4 linked regions of the Homo sapiens genome follow. The protein of the gene in region 4 purifies or fractionates together with the protein of the main gene of each other region. This does not show direct contact. Each region holds a gene or a part of one and is shown on either strand. Other genes may lie near its edges. The genes, in order: IREB2, TOP3B, CIAO3 and CIAO2A.

The links.
Region 1: the proteins of CIAO2A (region 4) and IREB2 purify together in Homo sapiens (affinity purification with mass spectrometry; 3 studies listed by BioGRID and IntAct, with this or other methods). This does not show direct contact.
Region 2: the proteins of CIAO2A (region 4) and TOP3B purify together in Homo sapiens (affinity purification with mass spectrometry; 2 studies listed by BioGRID and IntAct, with this or other methods). This does not show direct contact.
Region 3: the proteins of CIAO2A (region 4) and CIAO3 purify together in Homo sapiens (affinity purification with mass spectrometry; 4 studies listed by BioGRID and IntAct, with this or other methods). This does not show direct contact.

What each region holds. Positions count from the first base shown.
Region 1 is NC_000015.10:78,483,202-78,490,225, reverse strand, and holds part of IREB2 (iron-responsive element-binding protein 2), read right to left. Parts: intron 6,909-7,024; coding exon 6,792-6,908; intron 5,466-6,791; coding exon 5,306-5,465; intron 4,522-5,305; coding exon 4,386-4,521; intron 2,494-4,385; coding exon 2,409-2,493; intron 2,047-2,408; coding exon 1,890-2,046; intron 1,580-1,889; coding exon 1,455-1,579; intron 1-1,454. UniProt on the Homo sapiens protein: RNA-binding protein that binds to iron-responsive elements (IRES), which are stem-loop structures found in the 5'-UTR of ferritin, and delta aminolevulinic acid synthase mRNAs, and in the 3'-UTR of transferrin receptor mRNA.
Region 2 is NC_000022.11:21,979,769-21,987,043, forward strand, and holds the start of TOP3B (DNA topoisomerase 3-beta-1), read right to left. Parts: upstream 3,020-7,275; 5' UTR 2,962-3,019; exon of another isoform or gene 2,646-2,961; intron 1-2,645. UniProt on the Homo sapiens protein: Releases the supercoiling and torsional tension of DNA introduced during the DNA replication and transcription by transiently cleaving and rejoining one strand of the DNA duplex.
Region 3 is NC_000016.10:730,980-738,003, forward strand, and holds part of CIAO3 (cytosolic iron-sulfur assembly component 3), read right to left. Parts: intron 6,351-7,024; coding exon 6,207-6,350; intron 5,420-6,206; coding exon 5,287-5,419; intron 3,893-5,286; coding exon 3,758-3,892; intron 3,369-3,757; coding exon 3,250-3,368; intron 2,449-3,249; coding exon 2,319-2,448; intron 1,395-2,318; coding exon 1,322-1,394; intron 724-1,321; coding exon 586-723; intron 22-585; coding exon 1-21.
Region 4 is NC_000015.10:64,083,828-64,090,851, forward strand, and holds part of CIAO2A (cytosolic iron-sulfur assembly component 2A), read right to left. Parts: intron 6,489-7,024; exon of another isoform or gene 6,371-6,488; intron 5,025-6,370; coding exon 4,860-5,024; intron 1-4,859. UniProt on the Homo sapiens protein: Component of the cytosolic iron-sulfur protein assembly (CIA) complex, a multiprotein complex that mediates the incorporation of iron-sulfur cluster into extramitochondrial Fe/S proteins.

The sequences.
Region 1 (7,024 bases), about 14 Mb from region 4:
GCCCAGGCTGGTCTTAAACTCCTGAGCTCAAGCGATACGTGGGCCTTGGCCTCCCTGAGGGTTGGGATTATAGGCATTAGCCACCATGCCCAGCCAAAACAGTGTGTTCTAAAAAATCATGATGTTTTTGGACAGAATGATTAAAAATTTGCTCCTCAAATTCTAGCATACCAGATGTTCAGGAACACTCCAAGGGGCAAGTTTCAATATAAACAGAACATAAAGACTTCACAGAGTCCAAAAAAGTTAAAGAATTTAGAAAGATTTCTATATGTTGCTACAGAGAGATTAAGCATGTATGAGGTATGCTGTTAATGTCTAAGAATGTTATAATGGAGAAAAACCTCTGCTTTTTCAATGTATTTGTTCCACATCAACGCCTTCAAACTACAGCCAAAAATCTCACCATTTCTTAGGCCAGGCACAGTGGCTCACGCCTGTAAACCCAACACTTTGGGAGGCTGAGGTGGGCGGATCACTTGAGTCCAGGAGTTTGAGACCAGCCTGAGCATTTTTTATTTTTTATTTTACAAAAAATAAAAAATTAGCTGGGCCTGATGGTGAGCGCCTGTGGCCCCAGCTACTCAGGAGGCTGAGGAGCAGGATTGCTTGAGTCCAGGAGGTTAAGGCTGCAGTGAGCTGCTTCAGGCCACTGCACTCCAGCCTGGGTGACAGAGTGGGGTGCCATCTCCCAAAAAACACCAAAAAATAAATAATAAAAAATAATAAATATTGCATAATTTAGCTAATTATTCTCTTTACAGCTTATTTGCCTCTCCCCAGGAGAATTTTGTGTTTTGTTCAATGATGTATTCTGAACACCTAATCAATTCTTTCTTTTCCCCCCTCAACTGTTATTTTAACTTCTGGGGTACATATGCGGGATGTGCAGGTTTGTTACATAGGTAAATGTGTGCCATGGTGGTTTGCTGCACAGATCATCCAATCAACACTAATGAATTCTGATCCTCTAAGACATTTTCTTTCTTTTTTTTTTTTTTTTGAGACAGAGTTGCACTCTTGTTGCCCAGGCTGGAGTGCAGTGGCGCGATCTCGGATCACCGCAACCTCCGCCTCCCAGGTTCAAGTGATTCTCCTGCCTCAGCCTCCTGAGTAGCTGGGATTACAGGCATGCGCCACCAAGCCTGGCTAATTGTTTTGTATTTTTAGTAGAGATGCGGTTTCTCCATGTTGGTCAGGCTGGTCTTGAGCTCCGGACCTCACGTGATCAACCTGCTTCAGCCTCCCAAAGTGTCGGGATTACAGGCGTGAGCCACTGTGCCCAGCCGCCATTTTCTTTTTAACTACAGATTCCAGATACAAACTTACTATTACACATTAAAAACTGTATTCAAAATAATGTAATTTTAATTTTTATTCTATTCAGAAGATATATGAAATAAAAGAACACTGCAAATTGATTAAACTATTTAAGAAACACATAAGACTCTTACTTCTATTTTATCTTTTAATGCTTTAAACATGGATAGTATAACATGTTCTTCCTCTACTCGATGAACTTCTTCTCGACTAGGCCAAATATCATGCAGGTAAATGTTCTTGCCGGTGGGGTCAGTACCTGGTTAAAATTTTTGAACATGATACTCAGTAAAAAAATAACTCTGAAAATGTTCATACCTTTTCAAAGACATATCATGGAAATCAAGTAAATGATTCAACAGGGTGCTTCAGGCTTAAGCGGCTGGAAGAACTAATTACCTGTACATTTTATTTTCTTCACATAAACACAGAAATTAATAACTATACATTATCATACGTCTTCCTGAAATAATTCAAAGAATAGATGGTCTAAGAAACATTTCAAAAATATAACGACTTCCATTGGGAAAAGTATGTGTAGGTATACATATACATAAAGGAAAAGATACCTAAAGGTTCTGTCTGGAAATCTATATTCACTGTGCCTGCTATGGCATAAGCTACCACTAAGGGTGGAGAGGCAAGATAATTGGCACGAACACAATCACAAAGACGACCTTCAAAATTTTTGTTTCCAGATAAAATTCCACAGGTAACCAAATCACCCTGAAAAAAACACAAACACACAAACAAATAAATTCAATTCTAGAGATGGTACAAATCTGGATAATCATATATAAGCAATCTTAAAGTCTGAGGGCGAGATTAACCAAAAAACATATTACTAATTTTTAAATATAGAACTATGCATCTTGCAAATAAACTAAATCAATTCCTTGTATTATGAAGGAATTATTTCAAGGATCTACAAATGATTCATTGAATCATTTAAAGATTCACAGGTTACTATTGCCAAGAGGTGCAGAGTTTACAGAAATATAAACACATCAATATATATTTTCTATAATTTAGTAACAAAACATAGTTAAGAAAATCATTTAGATGTCTTGCCAATCCACACATTTTACCTGTTTTACTGCATTTAAAACTGCGTCTGATAAGGGTGCTGTATTTCCCACACAAATTGAACATCCATAGCCAACGATTTCAAATCTGCATTTCAAAAAAAAAGTGACTGAATAGCACATCACAACATTTATAGAGAAAGGACAAGTCTTATCTTGTATTTCTATCACTGTAATAAGATTACTTAAAAGACTATTCATGACACATGGATTAACCTTCATCAATATATTCACCTCAGAAGATTCTGAGCAATCAAGTCTAACTCTCAGGCATGCTATTTGAACCAGCTCACTGCAGCCTTAACCTCCTGGGCTCAAGCAATCCTGCTCCTTGGCCTCCTAAGTAGCTGGGGCCACAGGCGCTCGCCACCAGGCCCAGCTAATTTTTTTATTTTTTGTAAAATAAAAAATAAAAATGCTCAGGCTGGTCTCAAAGGTGAATGCAAACCTTTGAAGAGCCTTAATAGCACTTATCACTGTACAAGAGAATTCCCCCAAATACTACTTGCTAGGAATATAACATGACCTTTTAAAATAATTGATACTGTACTTCCATCCAAGAGTTTAAAATGTAAAGAGGACCTGGCTATAATAACCTGACCAAAGGTCCCAAAAGAGGCATTGATTGTAATTGGGCACTCTGATAGGAGTAATCTCTCAATTATCAACCAGTTAAACCCAAGAAGAGTCTCTGACAATAAATCCAAGATAATATAACCAAAAGATTACAGGCACAGTCCTCTAAATTACTTTCAGATGCTATTCTAAAAGCAAAAAAGTCTAAAATTTATCAGTTTTGCAATGGAATTGATGACTCATATGTTCCAAAATACACACCGAAAATATAACTAGGCTGGGTGTGGTGGCTCAGGCCTGTAATCCCAACACTTTCGGGGGCCAAGACGAGCCGATCACTTAAGGGAACAAGTTTGAGACGAGCCTGGCCAACACAGTGAAACTCTGTCTCTGCTAAAAACATAAAAATTAGCTGGGTGTGGTGGTGCACACCTGCGGTCCCAGCCACTCAGGAGGCTGAGGTAGGAAGACTGATTGAGCCTAGGAGGTCGAGGCTGCAATGAGCTGTGATTGCACCACTGCACTCCAGTGTGGGCAATAGAGCAAGACACTGTCTCAAAACCAAAAAATCCCCACACAACTAGCATCAATTGTTTTGGATTACATAAAAAACATAGGTTACTTTTTTTTTTTTCTTTTTGAGATGGAGTCTCGCTCTGTCGCCCAGGCTGGAGTGCAGCGGCACGATCTGGGTTCACTGCAACCTCCGCTTCCCAGGTTAAAGCAATTCTTCTGCCTCAGCCTCCTGAGTAGCTGGGACTATGGGTGTGCGTCACCACGCCTGGCTAATTTTGGTATTTTTTGTGGAGACGGGGTTTCACCATATTGGCCAGGCTGGTCTCAAACTCCTGGCCTCATGATTTGCCTGCCTCGGCCTCCCCAAGTGCTGGGATTACAGGCGTGAGCCACCGCGCCCAGCCCAAAAAACATAAGTTACTTTCTCCAAAGTTCAGGGACAATTTAAACTTATGTATTATAGACCCAATAACCTCATAAAACTAAAATTAAGACAATTTTCAGTTAATAAATGCAAACTATAAGATTTCTTTCTTTTTTGAACTGACCTACACAACTCACAGAAATTGTGCATACTTGGTATCGTTTCTTACACTGTAACTGTTATTTGGTTGTACTTGTTTGTCTTGTCTTCCCAACTAAGTATCTTGAAGCTAAGACCACATCTCCTACTTCTGTGTATCCAACCTGGTGCTTTGCTCATTTGATATGCCCAATAAGTGTTTCCTGAGTGATAAGGCATCAAAAATTGTATGGTAATGGCAAGGTAGCAAGTAAAACTAAAGCATATTTTTTCTATCTTCTCTTTGTATATGAAAGGCACAAACAAGCAGCTTCAGTACCTACTGAACACCAATATCAATATGAAGTGCGATAGCTGTTACTTACCCAAGCTTACTTAGATATGGTAATACTCCACTTGAACTGAGGTAATGTGTAACCATCCCACTGCCTGGAGATAAACTTGTTCTTATATAAGGTTTAACACGCAGACCAGCTTCAACAGCCTTTTTAGCCAAAAGACCTGCACAGCCAACAAACAATGATTTATTATGGCAATGTTTCTTTCCCTCTCTCACCCATATTAAAGTAAAAAGTGAGAAGTAATTTATTTAACAGATTAAAGTATGAATTCATAAACTTACTGTCATTATTTTGTCCACTTTATTCTACTGATTTGCTTCATTTACAACAAATTTAAAATTACAGCCTTTATGTTGAAAATTATTAAGATACAGGCTGACATCATTCACACAGAGTAAACAAAAGGTGCACATATATAAGTACATGTTAACAAAACCATTTTTTCTCTTTCTTCTTTTTTCTAAAGCAAACCATTTTAAAGTCATAATTACAATAAGAGCAATGTAACACATTATACATGGTTTTATACAACTAAGGAATTGTTCCAATGGGCATACAAATTAATTTCATTTACAATCCTTGCCAAGACAATGATCTTTTACTACTTTTATAACTTTTAATGAAATCTACCACACTGTTATGGTTAACTTCTAGATAATCAAGAAATACCTGCTAATTAACTATAGTTCTAAATTAACAAGAGAAGCAGATACAACCTAAAATTAATTGACAGGTAAGTTATAGTAAACAGTAAATTTACCTTCGGTGTAATAAAAACAACATAAATCAAACTCAGGCTCCTTAAGACCTAACTAAAATACTAGAAAGTCTCTCAATATCAAATGTAGACACTCATGCATCATCTAAGAAACAAAGTTACAATAACAGAAAAGCCAACAATAATTAAGGAAAAAGAAAAAGTATGGCCATAAACCACAACCCACCTGCAGCAAGCATGACAGATGGATTGCAATTATTGGTACAACTGATAACTGCAGCAATGACCACTGATCCATGAGACAGCTTATATTCACTTCCTTCATAATGAATGGAGACAATATCCTTTTGTTTTTCAGCTGCAATTTGGAAGCCTTTAAATCCAACCTATACAAATTTCCACAAAAATATAAACTAAATATTCTGGGTATGTACAGAATAAAAGACTGGCAGAAAACATAGCAGATACCGGACATTTGATGATTTAACATTAAAAATCCTTTTTGTGAGTGATGCTAAAGGCCCATAACATTCAGTAGTTGTAATTCAGCTGAAGCATAAATCTGCATGGGCACGACAGGAGTCTGGTGATGTTCACAAGCAAAACTTTTATCTACTAAGCGAGTCCAGCCTACCACCCAGAATCCAGATCTCATTTGGCTTTGTTGTTCTTAATCATCCCTGTTTATAGTAATTCTCAAGAGATGGCAGAAATTTTTTTCTGTTAAAATGACCCCGAAGATTTCCTCCAAAGGGATCCTATGTGTGTGAGTGTAGCATAGCTGAAACAAGATTGGCTATGAGTTGCTAATTATTGAAGCTAATTGACAGGTACATGGCAATTCAGTGGACTATTTTGTTTTTGTACAAGTTTAACACTTTCTGAACAAAAAGTCAAGAAATCATAAAAAGAAAGGCTCTGAAAGGAAAGCCAAGTACTAGAGATCTCAGAATAGAGAAAGTGACAAGACTAAAACTGTGATTCTCAGACAGAAAATACAAACCCTCAAAAGCCAGAGACCACTTGCTACTCGGTCACATTTACCAAATTTTATGACTGTAGGCCAGGTGCGGTGGCTCATGGCTATAATCCCAGCACTGTTGGGAGGCTGAGGTGGGCAGATCACTTGAGGTCAGGAGTTGAAGACCAGTCTGGCCAACATGGTGAAACCCTGTCTCTACTAAAAATACAAAAATTACCCAGGAATGATGGTAGACTCCTGTAATTCCAACTACTTTGGGGGCTGAGGCAGGAGAATCGCTTGAGCCCGGGAGGGGGGAGGTTGCAGTGAGCCGAGATTGTGCCACTGCACTCCAGCTTGGGCAACAAAGTGAGACTCTGTCTCAAAAAAAAAAAAAAAAGTTTCTGTGATGATGTAACTATTCAATTATCTATGCTGTTCATCAATACAAGACCCATATGTATTCAGCATTTAAAAATGAGACTACTGTGACTAAGAAACTCAATTTTAAATTGTATATAATTTTAATTTAAATAGACACAATCAATCTCTGATCCTCACAATGGAACTGGGAACAAGCTTACCTAATGACTGACTTGCACATTAGACAGAAGGAAAATAAGGGGGCTGCTGGTGTGTGCCATAATATATAAAACATAGCAGTGAATTGAGTTTATGGGTCACCTTGTTGGTTCTTTACTACTTAGCACAAAGCGGGTTGAAAAACACGGATAAGAATAAAGTAACCTACCTTTTCATTTAAGCAAGCCTGGAAATCGCTTTTCATATCTGTCACAGCAACTCTATCCTGAGGTCTTTTTGGACCACTAACAGATGGAACTATTGAATTCAGATTAATCTGGATCACCTAAGAAATGAGAAAGAGAAAGAACAAGGAATTAGAATTAATTCCTTACGACAGATTCCAATTGAAGCATTACTTTCTAAAGCAGAGTAAGTATATTCGTATTTATTTTAATGCAA
Region 2 (7,275 bases), on a different chromosome or scaffold from region 4:
GTCTCTACTAAAAATACTAAAAATTAGCTGGGCATGGTGGCAGGCGCCTGTAGTCCCAGCTACTCGGGAGGCTGAGGCAGGAGAATGGTGTGAACCCGGGAAGCGGAGCTTGCAGTGAGCCGAGATTGCGCCACTGCACTCCAGCCTGGGCGACAGAGTGAGACTCCATCTCCAAAAAAAAAAAAAAAAAAAAAAAGCATGGCATTCTCTACAGTAGAGCACCTGGCAGCATTACAAAGGAAAGCATCTGCTTGGTACATACTAACGTGGATCAGATCACTGAAATAAATCATGCTAAGAAAGCTGGGCATGTAACGGTGTGTAGAGAGCACTGCCATCTGTGATCACACATATGTGTGCACACGTGTGCACTTGATTATGAAGAGGCGATATGTCTGGATGGAACGCAAAACAAACAGTCCAAGCAATCACCTGGAGTGGGTGTTAGGGCCTGGAGGTCAGGGCTGGGGGTGCCTCCTCACCACATTCCCTTTTGCACCTTTTACATTTAGCGCCTGGACACAGGTGACTGAGGGACAAGAACTAAGACAAGGGACTTTACAATAAAACCAGAAAAATAAAGGAGGGTTGTAAAGGGCATTGTTCAGAAAGGATGCCAAAGGAACTCCCTCACTAAAGGGGCTTCTGCTGCTCATCATGCTGTGCAGGGGAAGAGGTCCAAGGTCGGCCTTGGGCTGTCAACCTTGTTCCCCACTTAAGAGATCACAGGACTACAGTGAAATCAGTAATCTTGACCAGAAAGCTGTCCCAAATAAAATGACAATTTGCTTTTTTCCTCAAAATAAGTAAGTGGATGTTCCCCTTAAATGTACAACCATCCCACAGTGAAAGAGCCGAGGCCTTGTGGAATGACGACACTGTCTGCAGATGAGCTCTCTGGCCCATGACAGCTCCAGCTGCATCTCCCAAGGCTCTGCTGCGCACCCACCTTTCCTCCCTGTGCGCCAGCAGGCTTCGGCCTAGGCCACTTTTCCCCCTTAGTCTACTTGCTCTGACCCCTGCCCCTCCCCTCCTGAAGACTGCATCTGGCGTCAGCAGTCTGTCTCTCCCACAATTGTCAGGTTCATTGCCATATTTCTGGCACCCAGCATGCACTAAATGCCTGCTGAGGGAATGAATGAACAACCAAGGTGATTATGACTGGCCTCTGCTCTCCGTTCTGGGGAAGTTTTGATTCTACCAAAATCAGAGGCCCAGAAGTGAGGTTTAAAAGAGATTTAGGGACTCCCCTTCTCTCACCCTGGGAAGCCAGAGGCCAAAAGGGAAAACTCGCAGCAGAGGGGCATTGTTCTGTGAGGGTCTGAGTTTCCCATCTCTTCCAAAGTAGGAAATTTTGTCCTAAAATGTTTCCTCAGATTTTCTCATGTCTATGCCACAGAGTAGTCAGCAATTATGTATGACATAATGAGGACACACCAGGGACCAGGCAGTCCTGCCAGCATCCTAGGCAGGGATGCTAATAGGTGCTGCCATTTTATTGGCCTAGACTGGGACTGTGGGGTCAGAGAGACCAGAGCTCCAGTGGCTGGACTTGGTTGTTCTAGAACCCGTGCCCCAAGCCTGATCCTGTCCTGCCTCTGTGAGCACTCTGATGGAACAGCAGCCCAGCTTTGCTTCCTTGTAGCACTCATCACTACACTTGGTACAGCTTCCATCTACTTATTCAGCTCTTGTCTTACAGCTCCTAGAAAGTAAGTAAGCAGCAGGAGAACACGGGTTTTGCTTTGTGCATTCTCACGGTAAATAGACAGTGAGCAAATACTTTGCGAGGCTGAGGCAGGTGGATCACCCGAGGTCAGCAGTTCAAGACCAGCCTGGCCAACATGGTGAAGCCTGGTCTCTACTAAAAATACAAAAATTAGCTGGGCGTGGTGGCGCATGCCTGTAATCCCAGCTACTCAGGAGGCTGAGGCAGGAGAATCACTTGAACCCGGGGGCGGAGGTTGCAGTGAGCTGAGATCGCGCCACTGCACTCCAGCCTGGGTGACAGAGTGAGACTCTGCCTGCAACAAAACAAACAAAAAAAGAAACAAGCAGATGTGGCCTGGGAGTAGGCCTAGCAGTGGTCTGAATAGCATTAAAATTCCTAGGATTTACCACCTCAGTAACTTTACCAAATGCTTCTAGAATCAGGAAAAGAGGGAAACAACCATTTCTTAAGCTCCTCCTTTGTAGTAGGCACACCATAGCTATCAACACTATTCAATCTCGCCAGCAACCCCATAAGGCAGGTGTTGTAATTTTTTAAAACTGTGAGTAAATGGAGGTTCAGAACAAGTCACACTAGTGTCAGGTGACCTTGGCAAAAGAATCCCAGGACTGGCTGGCCATCAAGCCCAAGTTAGGCTGGCCTCTCAGGTCCTGTTTCAAAAGGTGAGAAGATAAAAAGGCAAGACTAGGAACATCTTACCTTTCACTTCTGCGAGAAATTATTGCCCCTGGATTCCAGCTAATTTGTTCACAAAAGTACCCTACTTCATTTACAGATAACAGGTCAGAGAACCTGGGTGCCCTCAAAACCCAGCCAGGGCCTAGGGGGCGGCGAGTGGAAGCTGCCTGGGTGTGTACCGCACCGATCTGGGCCCCGGTGGCTGCACAGCTTCCCTGAGCCTCAGTTTCCCTACCTGTGAGACTGGTACAGCAGATCTCACCCTAAAGAGCTGTGGGAGGGTTCGAAGAAGAAAAGTATTAACCACAGCGCCTGCTCCCTGCAGGCACATGGCGGGCCCATCTCCACCTCCCTGAACCCCCACAGCAAGCCCCGCGGGAGAGTATCACCCCCGCCAGGGAAGAGGCAACAAGAATGCAGAGCCCGGCCCGGGCGCTCTCCCGAGCTCGCGGGTCCTCCGCCGGCCAACGTTCAGGAAACAAGCCAGAAAAATGCGTGCGCTTCCCGCCTTTCTGAGCCGCCGGGCGAGGGTCCCGCAGCCCGCCGCTCACCCACAGCCGCACCGCGGATCCAGCTCCGGTCCTTGTTCCCGGGGCGGCTACCGACAACCCCTATTTCCGGGTCCAGCCGCTTCTGGCGTCCCCGCGTCCGGTGTGCCAGCGTCTGCCCTCCGGCTCCGGCGGGTCGGCGTTCTTAGGTTCCGTGGCTCGCGGATTCCGGGAGCACCCCAGGGAGTGGCACTTGCACGCCGCGGACCGCAGGGATCCCCAAGCCCTGCACCCAGATTCTTCCCCGCCACGGAGAGACAATCATGACAATTATCATTACAATGATTATGAAAACTGGCATGAAAACATTTATGCTGTTAATAATTAAAATAATAAAAATGTACCGATGTGTGTATAGCAGGCTTCTTTTCGATGCTGTAAAAAAATCTGTGGAATGAATGAATGATCTGTGTAAAATATATTTGGAAGATGAATTCTAAAATTAAGTTATTTATTTATTTATTTATTTATTTATTTTGAGACAGAGTTTTACTCTTGTCGCCCAGGCTGGAGTGCAGTGGTGTGATCTCGGCTCACTGAAACCTCCGCCTCCCAGGTTCAAGCAATTCGCCTGCCTCAGCCTCCTAAATAGCTGGGATTACAGGCGTGCGCCACCACGCCCAGCTAATTTATATGTGTATGTATATATATGTGTGTGTATACATATATATATATATTTTTTTTTTTTTTTTTGAGGCGGAGTCTCACTCTGTTGCCCAGGCTGAAGTGCAGTGGCGCAATCTCGGCTCACTGCAACCTCCGCCTCCCGGGTTCAAGCGATGATCTCGCCTCAGCCTCCCAAGTAGCTGGGACTATAGGCGCTTGCCACCACGCGGGCTAATTTTTTGTATTTTTTTAGTAGAGACGGGGCTTCACCGTGTTAGCCAGGATGGTCTCGATCTCCTGACCTCGTGATCCGCCCGCCTTGGCCTCCCAAAGATTTCTATATTTTTAGTAGAGACGGGGGTTTCACCGTGTTAACCAGGCTAGTCTTGAACTCCTGACCTTAGGTGGTCCGCCTCCCTCGGCCTCCCAAAATGCTGGGATTACAGGTGTGACTCTTCACGCTCGGCCAACTAATTTATTTGTTAGAGCATTAGGATTATGGAAGGTTTAAAATACGTTTTATGATCTTATTTTAAATAACATACACACATTGCCCTTGTTCCTTGTAGATTTTCCCAACCTGCTGTTTTTTTTTTTTTTTTTTTAAAGACAGGGTTTCACTCTGTCACCCAGGCTGGAGCGCAGTAGCGAGATCACAGCTCACTGCAGCCTCGATCTCCTGGCGTCAGGCGATGCTCTCACCTCAGCCTCCCCAGTAGCTGGGACCACAGGTGCCAGCCACCAAGCCCAGCCAATTAATTTTTTTTTTTTTGGTAGAGATGGGGTCTAGGGGGAGGGTCTCACTATGTTGCCCAGATTGGTCTCAAACTCCTGGCCTCAAGTGATCCTCCTGCCTCGGCCTCCCAAAGTGCTGGGATTACAGGGGTGAGCCACTGTCCCGGGCCCCAACCTGCCTTTATTGGAATGATCTGTGTAAAGTATATCTGGAAGATGAATTCTAAAATTAAGTTATTTATTTATCTAATTTATTTTGATAAATAATAAGTAGTCTGGATAGAGGCTCTGGAAAAAGAAAAGTTCTATAGGCAAATTAAGGTTTGGAAATGTCACAAATTATGAGTCACGGTGAGACTTCACTTTCAAAGCAGAACTCCTGATTCCAAACCCACACCTTGGTAGGTTCTTCGTCTCCAAAATGGCAACTCCATCTTCCTGGTTGCTCAGGGACAGAGCCTGGGAGCATCCTGGACCACCCACAAATCCTGCCATTACTGTCTTTACAATACAGATGCTCCTCAACTTCAGATGGAACTACATCCACATAAACCCATCTTAAGTTGAAAATATTGTGACTCGAAAGTACGTTTTTGACTTATGGTATTTTCAACTTACTATGGGCTTACCCAGATGTAGCCCCATCATGAGTCAAGAAGCGTGCAGAATGCATACTGGTTTTGTAGTTGAAAAATCCTGTAGGTGGAAATTGTCCTAAATCGAAGACTGTATATCGGAGATCCCCTCAAGTCTCCCTGCCTCCCTGCCACCACCCTGATCCGAGCTCCTCCTCTCCCTCCAGGTCTCCACCTTGCCGCCCTGCAGTGTGTTCTCCACATACCAGCCAGGGCTAAGATTGGCTCTGTTGGGTGCTACCAGTTGGCTGAAAGAGAAACCCAGAGGCCCTCAGCTCATTCCATCAATCCAGTTCCAGAGTTCATTGTATGGAGCCCTAGGAAGGACCTGAGGCCTGGGCCAGCAGGAGGCGCTGAGTGGTCAGCTCTGAAGGCCAGGGCGTCGGGAAGTGTTCTTGGTCAGAGCAGAGAAACTGCAGTTGCCTTGTGCTTTCTTCCCGGAGAGCCCTGCAGCTGACCCTCTGCCAGAGCTTTGGGTCAGGCTTTCTGACTGACCCTTAGGTTGACAAATGACCCAGATTCAGAGGAACCCTTCAACTTGGAGGTGTCTCCCTATTGGGACTCCCCCCAACCCCAGCTCCACTCTGACCAGGGAGATGGTGGCCTAGGATCGACTCAGCGAGAGGGGCCGTTCTTCTTTCCCCATGGCTGGGGAGAAACTGACTCCCCTAAAGAGTAGCAGCAGACTTGCCTGCAGAGGCCTCCTCTAAGGAGTGTGCAGAGGCCATGAGAGAAACTCAGGTGCCCAGACACCGCCATGGGACTTCAGGAAGCAGAGCCCTGGGGTGTTTCCACCATGGTCTTGACTTTTCTCCTCTTCCTTACCCTCCTCACTTACTGGGCAGGTGCCTGGTTATGGTGGATGGGATAACTGAGGGCTCCTGGACCTCTCTTCTCTCTGGTTCGGCATAGGCTGGTCCATGATTTTGATAATACTATTAATAGTTAACATCATGCAGTGCTTACTTACTCTGTTCTAGGCACTGTTCTGTTACTGACACAATCCTCATTACAACACTAGGAATTAGATATTATTATTATCCTTATTTTACACATAAAGAAGCAGGACACATAGGCCAGGCGCGGTGGCTCACGCCTGTGATCCCAGCACTTTGGGAGGCTGAGGCGGGCGGATCACCTGAGGTCGGGAGTTAGAGACCAGCCTGACCAACATGGAGAAACCCCGTCTCTACTAAAACTACAAAAAATTAGGTGGGCATGGTGGCGCACATCTGTAGTTCCAGCTACTCGGGAGGCTGAGGCAGGAGAATCGCTTGAACCCAGGAGGCGGAGGTTGCAGTGAGCCAAGATCATGCCATTGCATTCCAGCCTGGGCAACAAAAGCAAAACTCCATCTCAAAAAAAAAAAAAAAAAAAAAAAAGAACCAGCAGGACACAATGATGGAAGTGGCAGAGCAACCTAGTTCCAGAAGCCACTTTTTTTTTTTTTGACGGGGTCTCACTCTGTTGCCCAAAGTTCTGGGATTTATGGGCATGAGCTACCGTGCACAGCCTTAAAGATTACTTTTTTTTTTTTGAGAGGAGTCTTGCTCTGTCGCCAGGCTGGAGTGCAGTGACACGATCTTGGCTCACTGCAACCTCCACCCCCTGGGTTCAAGCGATCCTCCTGCCTCAGCCTCCCGAGTAGCTGGGACTACAGGCACACACCACCAAGCCCAGCTAATTTTTTAAATTTTTAAATATTTTTTTATTTTTAGTAGAGATGGGTTTCACCATGTTGGCCAGGATGGTCTTGATTTCTTGACCTTGTGATCCACCTGCCTTGGCCTCCCAAAGTGCTGGGATTACAGGCGTGAGCCACCGCGCCTGGCCAAGATTACTTTTTGAAGTTTGAATAAAAGGGCAATGAAACCTGCGCTGAAGAACAGGAAATTGACTGGCTGTGTGCTGAGGCCATCCTTCTCCCCTGTCTGGGAGGGGGACTTCTGTCACTCTGCTGTCCCCAGAAGTGGGTGGAGCTTAAAACGTCACAGAAGCCCAAGTCATTTGCAGGGTACATGGAGAAACAGCTCTTGGCAGCCTGTCCTATGACCTGAACTCAACATGTCTTTTTTTTTTCTTTGAGACGGAGTCTCGCTCTGTCACCCAGGCTGGAATGCAATGGCGCGACCTCGGCTCACTGCAACCTCCCCTCCCGGGTTCAAGCAATTCTCCTACCTCAGCCTCCTGAGTAGCTGGGACTACAGGTGTGCGCCACCACGCCCAGTTAATTTTTTAAATTTTTAGTAGACATGGGGTTTCACCATGTTGGCCAGGTTGGTCTTAAACTCCTGACCTCGTGATCCGCCCACCTTGGCTTCCCAAAGTGCTGGGATTACAG
Region 3 (7,024 bases), on a different chromosome or scaffold from region 4:
ACCTCCTGGAAGTCTTTGTTCCTGGGGGGCACAGGCGGGGTTTGTCTACATGGCACACCCACCAGGCTCCTGCCTGCCTGGAAGGGGAGGCCTGCTGGGCTTCAGGGGATGACCGGGTACCTCCCAGGGCTCTCTCCCTCTCTCCTGGGCAGAGGGAAGGACAAGAACGGAGAGAGAGGGTGGAAGGCTCACTTCCTTGAGTCCAGCAGGGGACCTCACCTCCAGCCTCGGGCTGTCTGTGAAACAGGCCTCCCTCCCCAGGGATGTCTGTGAGGCCCTGGCCCTCCCTCCTGGGATGTGGTCGCGTGCCTGCGCCAGGCACCCATCACCTTTGCCCATGCTGGCCTCTCGGGCTCAGGGTCACCATCCCCCACAATGGGCCGACTGAGGCCTGGAGTGCTTAGGTGCCTTCACACCCTGAGCCCGCCAGGAGGGCCCTGCCTGGCCCCAGGGTCCCCTCCAAACCCTGCAGGCTGCCCTCCACCCAGCCCACCTCTGTGGGAGGACCCCAGGGGAGGCAGCAGCCCGAGGAAGGCTGGGGGCTGTGTGGCCGCTCTGCCCAGAGATCTGGCCCATCCCACTGACCTCAGGGGTTTGTAGGTAACCTCAGCCACATGGATTCCAAAGAGCTCTCGGGCCGCGTGCCGGAACACGTGCTCCAGGTAGCCCCCCGAGCCCCCTCCCCGATGGCTGGTGGGCTCCTCTGCAGAGGCACCGCTGCACCTGGCAAGGAGGGAGGGGCCTCAGCACAGCTGGGGCTGCTGCCTGCCAACCTCCCGAGCAGGGCCTCTGTCCCTCACACATGAGCGTTTGCATTTCCAGGTGGGAGACAAGTCACAGACACAGAGGAACAGCTCCTGTGTCACCAGCCATCACAGGGGCCCAGCCACTTCTTGTTTTTTTTTTTGAGACGGAGTCTTGCTCTGTCGCCCAGGCTGGAGTGCAGTGGCGTGATCTTGGCTCACTGCAAGCTCCGCCTCCTGGGTTCAAGCAATTCTCATGCCTCAACCTCCCAAGTAGCTGGGATTACAGGGCCTGGCATGGATTACCACCATGTCTGGCTAAATTTTGTATTTTTAGTAGAGATGAGGTTTCACCATGTTGGCCGAGCTGGTCTCGAACTCCTGACCTCAGGTGATCTGCCCACCTTGGCCTCCCAAAGTGCTGGGGTGACAGGCGTGAGCTACTGCGCCTGGCTATCCAGCCACTTCTGTGGACGCCAAGATGGGCTGCGGGGAGGCAAGCCCAGAGCAGGGGGATGCTATCCTCAGAGGCAGCGTTAGAAGCTAAAATAACAGTTCTTGGTGGCAGACATACGTACAGGCTGTCCAGAGGGGCTGGTTCCAGGTCGGGGAGGGAGACGCCCTCTTCCTCCAGCAACCTGAAAACTTCTCCTGCAAAGAAGCCACAGCGCAGACACTCTTTAGCGGAGATCCCAGCAACAAAGTCAGAGAACATCCAAGCCACCTGCATCCCCAGCAGTCTGCACTTTGGCCCCAGAAGGCCCCAAATGTCCACCCTAGCCCGTGGTGGGGAGGCCAGGCCCGGTCACTCCTGAAGCCCCTCTGGAGGCTGCCTGGTCCTGCCCAGGGAGGTGTGCCAGCGGCCAGGCCACTCTGCTCACCCAGTGTCCATCTGTCCATCCTCTTAGGCAGTCTGCTTTTCTTTTTTTTTTGAGACGGAGTCTCACTCTGCCGCCCAGGCTGGAGTGCAATGGTACGATCTCGGCTCACTACGACCTCTGCCCCCCGGGATCAAGTGACTCTCCTGCCTCAGCCTCCCGAGTAGCTGGGATTACAGGAGCACCACCACTACTCCCGGCTAATTTTCGTATTTTTAGTAGACATGGGGTTTCATCATCTCGGCCAGGCTGGTCTTGAACTCCTGACCTCGTGATCCACCCACCTCTGCCTCCCAAAGTGCTGGGATTACAGGCGTGAGCCACCATGCCCGGCCACAGTTTGCTTTTCTGCCTCACATTTGGGAGACTGTGGGGCTGCTCGACTCAGGAATGGGGTGACTCATGGGAGCTGAAGAGGCTGCATTCGAGAATCTCTGCCCACCTCCAAAGACTCATTTCAGAGCCAACAAGGAGGTATTACTGAGCGCCACCTGGCTGCAGGTCCCCAAGACAGGCCAGCTGCAAATGGGCCCACCTGGCTCCAAGGGGAGAGACGAAGGTACGTGCACGCATGCGAGCCCCCACACTCCAGCCAGGGCCCCCACAGGCAGGATCCTGGGCAGTCGCCACCTGTGCCCAGGGCTCAGGAATCAGACCAGGAGGCTTGAGGGCTCAGGGCCGCACGGCGTGACCGCACCTGTTGTGAGGACACAGTCCACATCCCGTGTCTGGTGCTCCTGGTTGAAAAAGTCGGGTCTGGAGGCTTCCAGCTTTTTGTCATAGCAGGGCATCACTGTGACGTGGTAGATCTTGTCAGGGGTCAAGTGCTACAAGGAGAAACAAACACTTGTCTCCCCAATCCCAGCAGTAAGGTGGCTGAGACGGGACCTGGAACTCAGCCATCCTGCAGCCAGGCCGGACCCCGAGGGACAGTGAGCCTCACTCCATTTCCCAGCAAGCCTCCTGCCGGCTCTGCGGATGTGTCCCTGGACAGGACGGGCCCTGGCTGTGACAGAAAATGACACTGACCCATTCCCAGTGTGCCTGCGCTCCCTAACAGCCAAGTCCAGCGGAGGAGAAGTGGCCTTCCCACGGCTCGGGCCGTCTCACTGCACAGCAGCCGGGGAAACGGATGTCACGGGGGAACCAACCAGCTCCAGCCCCGGGTGAAAATCCGCGTGCAGTCAGGCAAGAGGTGCCGCAGGGGACATGGGCGCTCGAGGCCCAGGCACCACCGGGGCCGCCCTCGCCCTCTCCCGCCCCCTGCTGGCTGAGTGTCTTCAGGCTTCTATCCCGCTGGGCCTCAGGTGGGGGTCGTGCTGGGCATCCTCGTGGACCTGGTGGCCGGAGGGGTGGGCTCCAGGCCCGGACTGCCCAGGGCCTCCTGCTCCCTCAGCCTCAGGCCTGGCTGCCTCTGGGTGAGCAGTGAGCACCTCTGGATCAGAACGAAGCCCTCTGCTGCAGAAGAGGAAGGGCCTGAACCAGGAGGGAACAAGGGTGGAGGTGTGCTGGGGAAGGCCGCACAGCACAGCGAGGACTCTGTTTCCTGCAGCCTCATGGCAAGAGGCCAGCAAAGTCACTTCTGGCCGCTCCCCAGCCTGAGTCTGGGGCTGGCCCAACGCCGTTACCTGCTGCTGGGCGAAGAAGTCCTTGACCAGGGAGCCCATGACCTGCTGCGGGGACCGGGCGGTGCTGATGTGGGGGAGGATGAAGCTGCCGTGAGTCTTCTCGGCATAGCAGATCCAGCCTGAGGTGACAGGGGGCACACGGGGCTGGCGGGGGCGCACGGCGGCCCCCGCACCCACAGGCAGCAGCACGACATTCTGGGGGCGGGCCCGCTCATACAGGAGATCATGATGACATTAAAGAGTGCTCATTCCTGTTCTCCCCACCACCACGCGGAGCTCGGCGTGCAGGCGACACCGCCTAGGGACCTGAGGTGACTGCGCGTGGCTCCCACGGGAGGGCAGCCTCTTCTCCAGAAAAGGCCATTTGTGCCAACATTTCCAACCCGTCCCGCAAAACCTGCTTGCGTCTCCACCCCCCATGCCCCCGCCTTGTCATTTGTGTCCATATCACCTCACGTTTCAACTGCACTTGAACTTGACTCTCCCACCACCCGCACCATGAGCACACCTGGGCAGGCAGAGGCCAGCAGGGGCAGCGCCTGTCTGCAGTCGGCCTGTCCTCGGAATCGCCGCACAAACTCTCGCTGGCTCTCCAGGAGGCTGAAGTGCCTTGAGAAGGCGGTGTCGAAGACGAAGTGCACCCCTGGAAGGTGAAGGTGGGTGCCTGGTTAACCCCATGCGGGACGCCCACACGAGCACACGCCGGCGTGTGGACCACCATGGTGCTGCCAGGGCACGTGTGTCGCACCTGCTTGCCGTGCCAAAGCCCCGGCCCCACCGTGGGGACCTCCTAAAGCCACGTTGCGCCAAAGCCCCAGCCCCACTGTGGGGACCTCCTAAAGCCACGTTGCCTCGGCATCCCCTGTGAACCCAGGCCTTGGTTTCCCACCCCAGAGGCAGCCACCCAGCAGCTCAGTCCTCCACCCTCCCAGCTCTTCAGCGTGGCTGGTCCAGGGAATTGCCACGTGCGCTGCTCCCGGTGACCCTCCCTAGGGCACAGCTGGACGCAGCCTGCTGGACTGGCCCCTCGGACCCTGACTGTGCAGACCTACCATAGTGGCCACCCCTCACACACAGCAGGACTCCTGGAACACGCCAGCCAGCTCCAAGCCCAGCCATTAGAACTGCTCAGTAAACCTGCCTGATCGTGCCCTGGACCCAGCAGAGGCACCCGCGTGTGGGTCCCTCTCTCTCTGCCTGACTTGTCATTCCTCCCTCGCGTAACCCGTGGTCGGAGGACTCGCTGTGCCCCACTTGCCCGTCATCATCATCTCTAAGTAAAAATCTTTGAACTTGCTTCCTATTCTGGTGGGGACGAAATCCACACCTTCCATCTGGAGAACCATGGGCTGCCCCAGGCCAGGTTTTCCCTGGGACACCAGGTCAGGCTCCCAGTGCCAGAGCACTGCTCAGGCACCAACTGGATATGGGTCAGACAGGAGCCATGGGGCACCTGCCAGTGTCACCAGGTTTCCAGTGTGAGGGACCTGGGACACAGCTGGATGACAGGCAGTCTGCTGGTTACAAGGCGCACAGGCCTGCCTCACTGGGAATGAAGGGACTGGACATGGTGGTTACCTGTGAAAGGCACACAGTAACCATGAGGTCCAGCCCCTTCATTCCCAGTGAGACACCAGGCACTGGAGCCTAGTTAGCTGGGGGCTCTCAAGACACCCAGATCCTCCCCAAGCCCAGCTCCAGGCACATAACCAAAGTCAGCAGAAGCTGACCTTGGCTGAACCCAACAGAGCCCCGGAGAGAGTGCCTTAATATTATCAGCTAAAAAGTACAAGGAGTTGGTCAGCCCCAGCTTAGAGAAAGTGCACAGTCAGAATGCAGACGTGTTCTGTGAGAAGGCCCTGCTCTCAAATGTCAAATCAAAACTTCAGGCTGAGGTCACAGAGGGAATAAAGTTTCTGTAGCGCTGAAGTTCAGGGCTGGGTAGCGTGTCAGTGACTCAGAGGCGCGAGGGGCCTGGGCTTACTCAGACGCCCCCTTGATTTGGAGCGGCAGTGTTACCCCAGGTTCAAAGCCTACCTATTTTTTTAAAGAATGAGGTTAATTTCCTGGCAGTATCTGTAGGATTCAGCTGAAACCGTGCAGCCAGCGATGCTCTAGACTGTGGTGAGACCGAAACTACAACCAGCCTCTGCTGACTGGGTGCCGCCATCTGCAAAGCAAGGGGAAGACGCTGCTTACTCTGCTGGCCTTATGCTGATTCCTGGTGGCCAGAGCCGCACGGTGAGATGCTGTCAGCTGTGGAGAGGGCAGGCCAGCTCCATCAAGAGTCTTTTTTTTTTTTTTAACACAGAGTCTCACTCTGTTGCCCAGGCTGGAGTGCAGTGGTGCGATCGGAGCTCACTGCATGCAACCTCCGCCTCCCAGGTTCAGCCTCCTGGGTAGATGGGATTACAGGCGTGAACCACCGTGCCTGGCCAAGGGTATCGTTTTTTTTTGATGGAGTCTCACTCTATCACCAGGCTGGTGTGTAATGGCGCAATCTCGGCTCACTGCAACCTCTGTCTCCTGGGTTCAAGCGATTCTCCTGCCTCAGCCTCTCTAGTAGCTTGGATTACAGGCATGTGCCACCACACCTGGCTAATTCTTGTATTTTTAGTAGAGACGGGGTTTCACCATGTTGGCCACGGTGGTCTCGAACTCCTGACCTCAGGTGATCCACCCGGCTCAGCCTCCCAAAGTGCTGGTATGACAGGCGTGAGCCCCCGCGCCCAGTAGGGGTGTCATTTTGATGTATATTTAGAACCTGAAGTTTGGGGCCTGACACGTTCACCACTGGAGCCCACTGACAAATCACCAAGATTCCAAGCCTCAAAAAGGCAGGCGCCACCCGCACGACGGACGTCGGCACCACACGAGCTGCCCTTGGCAAAACGCGTTGTCGGCTGCTGGGATGGATTTCAGGTTAAAGCAGAGTCACCAGGCCGACCACTGCTTACCTTGTTAGCATCTAGAACCTTCTTCAGCTCCTCGTGGCTCTGCTGGGTGATAAGCACGGTCTCTGCGGAGGTGATGCAGCCGCTGCACGCCAGGCAGTCGTTTAGCGAGACCTTGGCCTTCTCCAGCCTCCGGGTCCCGCCGTCCTACAAGGGAGAAGAACCCGGTGCACAGGGGCCCCCTCTGCACGAGGACATGGAGACAGAGGATAGTGGAGTCCAGCTCATAACCGACAACCAACATGGCTGCTGGCTGGGCTTGTGTGCCGCTGAATTTTTAAAAATTAGGTATGTATTACAAAAATGCACACGCACGCTCTACAGTTTCATAATGCCGTCAAGTCTGCTTCTTGGTACCACTTGGTTAGTGCATCCGAATCACAGGACTAAGGCTTGCCACTGGTATCTCAGCAAAGCAGCAGCCACCCCACTCACCCATGGGGCCCTGGACGGGGTGCTGGCCCCGGTGCACACTCACAGGGCTGTAGGGCAGGAAAATGCCGAAGGTGGGCTCTGAAAGGAGGAGGCGGGAAAGCTGAGGACAAAGGAGGAAAGGACGAAGGCACAGGAAGAGGAGAGCAGAGGGAGGAAGCCTGGGAGCCTGGCCTCCGGTGGGCGGGGCAGAAACAACCGTCAGACTCGCCAAACAGATGCAGGAACAAGGTGTTCCAGTCGGGGGCCTCCGGGACATGCCTCAGCAACTTTTCTTACATGCAAAACGCACCCAGCTCGAGCTCCCCCAACTTCTCCTGCAAAGGCAGGAATGGTTTGAGCAGGGCCAGGGGTGCTGCAGTGGCCCGGAATACAGCCAGAGGAGTAAG
Region 4 (7,024 bases):
CAGCTACTTGGAGGCCGAGGCACGAGAATCGCTTGAACCCAGGAGGCAGAGGTTGCAGTAAGCCAAGACAGCACCACTGCTTTCCAACCTGGGCAACAGAGCAAGACTCTGTCTCAAAAAAAAATAAAATAAAATAAAATAAAAATAAAAAATAAAAAGCCAATGGTCTTAGCTGAAATGCATAACGAAAGGGCTAAGACAAAACTTTCTACAGGAAGTGTACAGATCTGAAATATCAACTATAATCTAATGTTAGCACCCTTACAGAACAGTTTTTATTTCATGCACTCTCCTGATATTTGTCCACGTACACATTTTTCTATAACTGCAATCATGATGCAATTTGAACTTATTCAAGCTTTTTCATGTTTTTTTTCTTTTTTAAGAGATTGCTGGTTTCAAACTCCTAGGCTCCAGTGATCCTCTCGCCTCGGCCTCCCAAAGTGTTACAATTACAGGTGTGGGCCACCACGTCTGGCGAATATTTTCTTCTATAAAATTAGTTCCTTAACTCCTGCGTCAAACAGTATAAACTTCCAGATAGGGATTTACCAATATATACCATGAGGCTTCAAAATACTTACATAATCTAACCCAATTATTCCACGTATAGGAATTTATCCTGATGCAATAATGAGATATATAAAAATATTTATATAAGGCCAGGCACGGAGGCTCACCCCTCTAATTCCAGCACTTTGGGAGGCCAAGGCAGGCGGATCACCTGAGGTTGGGAGTTAGAGACCAGCCTGACCAACATAGAGAAACCACATCTCTATTAAAAATACAAAATTAGCCAGGTGTGGTGGTGCATGTCTGTAATCCCAGCTGCTTGGGAGGCTGAGGCAGGAGAATCGCTTGAACCTGGGAGGTGGAGGTTGTGGTGAACCAAGATCATGCCATTGCACTCCAGCCTGGGCAACAAGAGTGAAACTCCGTCTCAAAAAATAAATAAATAAAAATATTTATATATAAAGTTGTTCGGTCAGGCGCGGTGGCTCACACCTGTAATCCCAGCACTTTGGTAGGCCAAAGAGGGCAGATCACTTGAGGTCACAAGTTCGAGACCAGCCTGGCCAACATGGTGAAACCCCGTCTCTACTAAAAATACAAAAATTAGCTGGGCTTGGTGGAGGATGCCTGTAATCCTAGCTACTCGGGAGGCTGAAGCGGAGAATCACTTGAACCTGGGAGGTGGAAGCTCCAGTGGCCACTACACTCCAGCCTGGCCAATAAAGTGAGACTCTGTCTCAAAAAATAAAATAAAATAAAATAAAATAAAATAAAATAAAATAAAGTTGCTCATCACAGTATTATTTATAATTGCAAAAGGCTAGAAGTAGTCCAAATGGTTACAAAACTTCTGATGTACCAATATGATTAGCATGTAACCTATAACTATATAATTAAAGAATATTTAATGATGGCCAGGTATGGTGGCTCATGCCTGTAATCCCAGCACTTGGGGAGGCTGAGGCATGAGCCCAGGAATTTGAGACCAGCCTGGGCAACATGGCAAAACTAGCCAGGCATAGTGGCACCTGCCTGAAGTTCTAACTTTTCAGGAGACTGAGGTGGGAGGATCACTTGAGCCCGGGAGGTGGAGGCTGCCTGCAGTGAGCCGAGATCGTGTCATTGCATTCCAGCCTGGGTGACAGAGTGAGACCCTGTCTCAACAACAAAAAAAATTTAAAAAAAGAAATATTTAATGAGAAAAATAATTCATGTATTTCATGCTATTACTTAACTCTTACGACTCTATAGATATCCTTATTATTCCTGTTTTACAGATAAGGAAACTGGGTCTTGGAAAGGTTAAGTAACTTGCCGAAGCCCACAATACGGTACAGCCAATAGACCTGGAATTTTAGCCCAGAGCATATATTCTTTTTTTTTTTTGAGACGGAGTCTCGCACTGTAGCCTGGGCTGGAGTGCAGTGGCGTGACCTTCGCTCACTGCAACCTCCGCCTCCCGGGTTCAAGCGATTCTCCTGCCTCAGCCTCCCACGTAGCTGGGATTACAGGCGCCCGCCACCACGCCCAGCTAATTTTTTGCATTTTTGGTAGAGACAGGGTTTCACTACGTTGGCCAGGCTGGTCTCAAACTCCTGACCTCATGATCTGCCCGCCTCGGCCTCCCAAAGTGCTGGGATTACAAGAGTGAGCCACTGCACCCAGTGACATTCTTTCATAATAGCTGGTTTTTTTCTTTATGTTTTTGTGGGGTATCAAAATTACTGCCAATAAACATGTTACTCATATAATTTAAATAAATGTTAATTTTAAAAATGAATTTGCTGGCTGGGAGTGGTGGCTCACACCTGTAATCCCAGCACTTTGGGAGGCCGAGGTGGGCAGATCACCTGATATTGGAAGTTCGAGACCAGCCTGGCCAACATAGTGAAACCCCATCTCTACTAAAAATACAAAAAAAATTAGCCAGGCATGGTGGCGGGCGCCTGTAATTGCAGCTACTTGGGAGGCTGAGGCAAGAGAATCGCTTGAACCTGGCAGGCGGAGGTTGCAGTAAGCCAAGATTGCACCATTGCGCTCCAGCCTGGGTGACAAGAGTTAAACTCCAGCTCAAAAAATAAATAAATAAATAAATTTGCTATAGGTTCTTGAACTCTCCATTTAAGAACTCTTTCTTATATGTCAAAATATTTTAAGACACCCCCTCCACAACACCCACAGCAGTACTTTCAGTATCTGTTCGTTCACAAATTGTCCAATGACCAAAAATAACCATGCATTCAGCATTCAGTAATGCTTTTTCTAGCAATGGGATTTTTTTTTTTTTTTTTGAGACAGAGTCTTACTCTGTTGCTTAGGCTGGAGTGCAGTGGCGCAATCTCAGCTCACTGCAACCTCCACCTCCCATGTTCAAGCGATTCTCCTGCCTCAGCCTCCCGAGTAGCCGGGATTACAGGTGCGTGCCACCATGCCCAGCTAATTTTTGTATTTTTAGTAGAGATGGGGTTTCACCATGTTGGCCAGGCTGGTCTTGAACTTCTGACCTCAAGTGATCCACTGCCTTGGCCTCCCAAAGTGCTGGGATTACAGGTGTGAGCCGCCATGCCAATGGGAATTTTTTTTTTTTGAGATGAAGTTTTTGCTCTTGTTGCCCAGGTTGGTGTGCAATGGCATGATCTCAGCTCACTGCAACCTCTGCCTCCCAGGTTCAAGTAATTCTCCTGCCTCAGCCTCTCAAGTAGCTGGGATTACAGGTGTGTGCCACCATGCCTTGCTAATTTTGCTTTTTTTTTTTTTTTTTTTTTTGGGAGATAAGAGTCTCGCTCTGATGCCCAGGCTGGAGTGCAGTGGTGCAATCTCGGCTCACTGCAAACTCCGCTTCCCGGGTTCACGCCATTCTCCTGCCTCAGCCTCCTGAGTAGCTGGGACTACAGGCACCCGTCACCATGCCTGGCTAATTTTTTATAGTTTTAGTAGAGACAGGGTTTCACCATGTTACCCAGGATGGTCTCCATCTCCTGACCTCGTGATCTGCCCGCCTCGGCCACCTAAAGTGCTGGGATTACAGGCGTAAGCCACCGCGCCCGGCCTAATTTTGTATTTTTTTTAGTGGAGATGGGGTTTCACCATGTTGGTCAGGCTTGTCTCAAACTCCTGACCTCAAGTGATCTACCCACCTTGGCCTCCCAAAGTGCTGGGATTACAGGTGTGAGCCACCACGCCCGGTCACCAATGGGATTTTAATAACCACAATAATACCTATGGATTCACAGACCTCCAGTCCCTCAAGATGTGGCCTATATGGTGGAAACCACCAGCAGAGGGAACCCAGGTCAACCAGTGAGAAAAGACAGAAATCACAATAGTGGAAATAATAACGAAATAGCGACCTTTTCAATCTTTTTTATAAACTTGTTGCTTTTTAATAGGTGAGATAGTCCCATGGTTTGAAAATGTAAAAACATAAAAAGGTATAAAGTCTCCCTCCCACCCTTTCCCCCATCTGCCCAGCTCCCACCACCACTATTACCCGCTAACACCCTTATAGCTATTCATTTATGTATTAATATTATTCAGGCATATGCAATCAAATACAAATGTATGTTTTTGCTTTTTTTACACAAATGATAGCAAAATGATACTTGCTTTTATTTCTTAACAGTATGTCATAGAGATCTCTCCATATCAGTACATGCAGAGCTTCTTCATTCTTTTTTATAGCTGCATAGTATTCCACTGTTTATATTCACCATCAATGATTATTTAATCAATCCCCTACTCATGAACATTTGGTTTGAAATAAAATCCCTTTATAACAAAGCATATGTTCAAATACATTTATTGTACCTGCTAACAAATCCAAAATACTGGGAATCCAACCTCCTACCAGGACTTCTACCCATACTATGTAGAAACCAGAAGAGTCACTGAAAGGAGATGGTGATGGAAGCAATGCTAGTCTGACACCACCCACTCCAACCTCCAGAACTGAGGAAAAGCACTGGCCCACATGCACTCTCCATTAATTGTGGGCATATATACCTGGGAGGGGCAGCCTGACATAACTAAAGGAGAAGTGGAGTCAGGAGACCTGGGTATGAGCCTTAGTTTCACCATTTCCTGGCTACCTGATTCTGTGCAAGTCACTTAAACTCTCTGAGCTTCAGGTTCCTCATCTGCAAAATGAAGATAATAATATTTTAACTCAACAAGCTAATTGTGAGGACTACAGAAGATGAATACACGAACATACTCTGTAAACCATAAAGTGTAATACATACACTGTATGGTTTTTCAACAATGATGCAAATTGTTATTATGGGTCAATATCAGCAAGAATAACTTAGAATTTATATAAATATACATGTATGTACAGAAAAACTTACCAATAAGAGTCGCCAAAGAGCAATGAGGTACTGTTGGCGTGAACCTGATAATAACCAGATATTCTTCTTCATTTATCTCCTGAACTTCCACACAACTTTCCGAGACCACTTCCAGTTCTTCTAAAGTATTGGGCTTTTCTGGGTCCCGGATAGTTCTAATCAAATCTAAAGAATCATCAGAGATAAGATATTCTATTAAAACATGACTATTCTAAATAAAGATGATTTTGCCAGGCCTAATTTAAGCACTGACTTCTCTTACGTTTAAGCAAATAGTACAGCAACTCCCAGGTTTCTGACAGAAATTTTCACTACTGGTTTCCTCTTGAGAAAACTGTTTTCTTGGATTATTATAAGACCATATCCAGTTTCTCCAATCGGACATTGCAGAGAAAATATAATAAGAATGGAAACAGTGTCATGGAAGCTCAAGAGGAAGAAATAACTTTCAGCTTGAAAGAATGTGGTTATCAGGCTTTATAGGAGCGGAATCTGAATCAAGCCTTGAAAAATAGGTAACATTTCAATATTTGACATTTAAAGTGAAGGAAAGTAGCTGGGCATGGTGGCTCACACCTGTAAACCAACCACTTTGAGAGGCAAAGGCGGGAGGATCACTTGAGCTCAGAAGTTCGAGACCAGCCTCAGCAACATAATGAGACCCCCGTCTCTACAAAAAATACACACAAAAATTAGCCGGGTGTAGTGGTGCAGGCCTGTGGTCCCAGCCACTCAGGAGGATCGCTTGAGCCCAGGAGGCAGAGGTTGAGAGCGGAGATCGTGTCACCGCACTCTAGGCTGGGCAACAAAGCGAGACCCTGTCTCAAAAAAAAAAAAAAAGTGAAGGAAAGTAAAGTAAAGAAGAAGAACCCTAGTTTGCCTGGAAGCAGGCATAAGTGAAAGGTGTTTTAGAGTATGAGATTTGGGTCTGACCATCAAGTGTCTTTTACAGCCAGCTACCGGCAATAGCAAGTCCTCAAGAGGTTTGAGACAAGTGACATGGACAACACTGTGCTGTCAGCTGGTAACTCATCATCAGCTGCTAGACTCAGACTAAAAAGCAGAACCAATGATACCAGCTAAAAACACCAGGCCTAAAATAGTATCTAGGACAACACTGGCAGAACTAAAAGAAACAGAACGAGGAAGAAATTTGGGTGGGGCATAGAGCAAATGAGTTCAATTTCACACAGAATGATTTTGAGGTGCTTAAGGGGTTATCCAATGGAGTTTTCTAGCAAGTGGTAAACTGTAGCATAGAGTTTAAAACAGCATCAAAGCTAGAGTGGTTGTCAAACCCACAGGATTCACAAAGAATAAGTAGAACCTTGGCTGAACATTGGAATTACCAAGAATGTTTCAAAACAAACAACAAGGCCGGGCGCGTGGTTCAGGCCTATAATCCTAGCACTTTGGGAGGCTGAGGCGGGTGGATCGCCTGAGGTCAAGAGTTCGAGACCAGCCTGGTGAACATGGTAAAACCTCGTCTCTACTAAAAATACAAAAATTACCCAGGCGTGGTGCCGGGCGCCTGTAATCCCAGCTACTTAGGAGACTGAGGCAGGAGAATCACTTGAAACCAGAAGGCAGAGGTTGCAGTGAGCCGAGATCCCGCCATTGCATTCCAACCTGGGCAACAGAGCAAAAACTCCGTCTCAAAAACAAAAACAAACAAACAAAAAAACCTGATGCCTGGGCCCCAATTCCAGAGACTCTGATTTAATTGGTTTGCTGGCCTTTGAGTTTTAAAAATTTCTCGGGTTGTTCTTAGGTACAACCCAGTATGAGAATCAGTGGTATAAAGAAAAAAGAGACCCAACAGATCCATGCGAAGCACCTAACTTAGGGATCAGAATGAGAAACAAAAGCAAAAAGAACTAGAGGAGGGAAGAGAGGGATGGTTAATAACATTAAATGCTGCAGAAAAATTCAGGCTCATGAGAGCTAAAACAGGTCTTTCATTTGTCACCCCAGCCAGCTGTAAGAAAGCAGTTTCAGTAGAGAGTGCGTGCGCTGAAGCCAGCTTGCAAAAGGGGAAGCAAGTAGGAACTGAAAATGTCTTCCTAGGGCCTTAGCTGGGAAGGGAGGGACATGAAAAGGACAATGACTTTATAAGGAAGCTAGAACAATGACAAGGATAAGGGCAACTTTGAGGAGAGAAATTG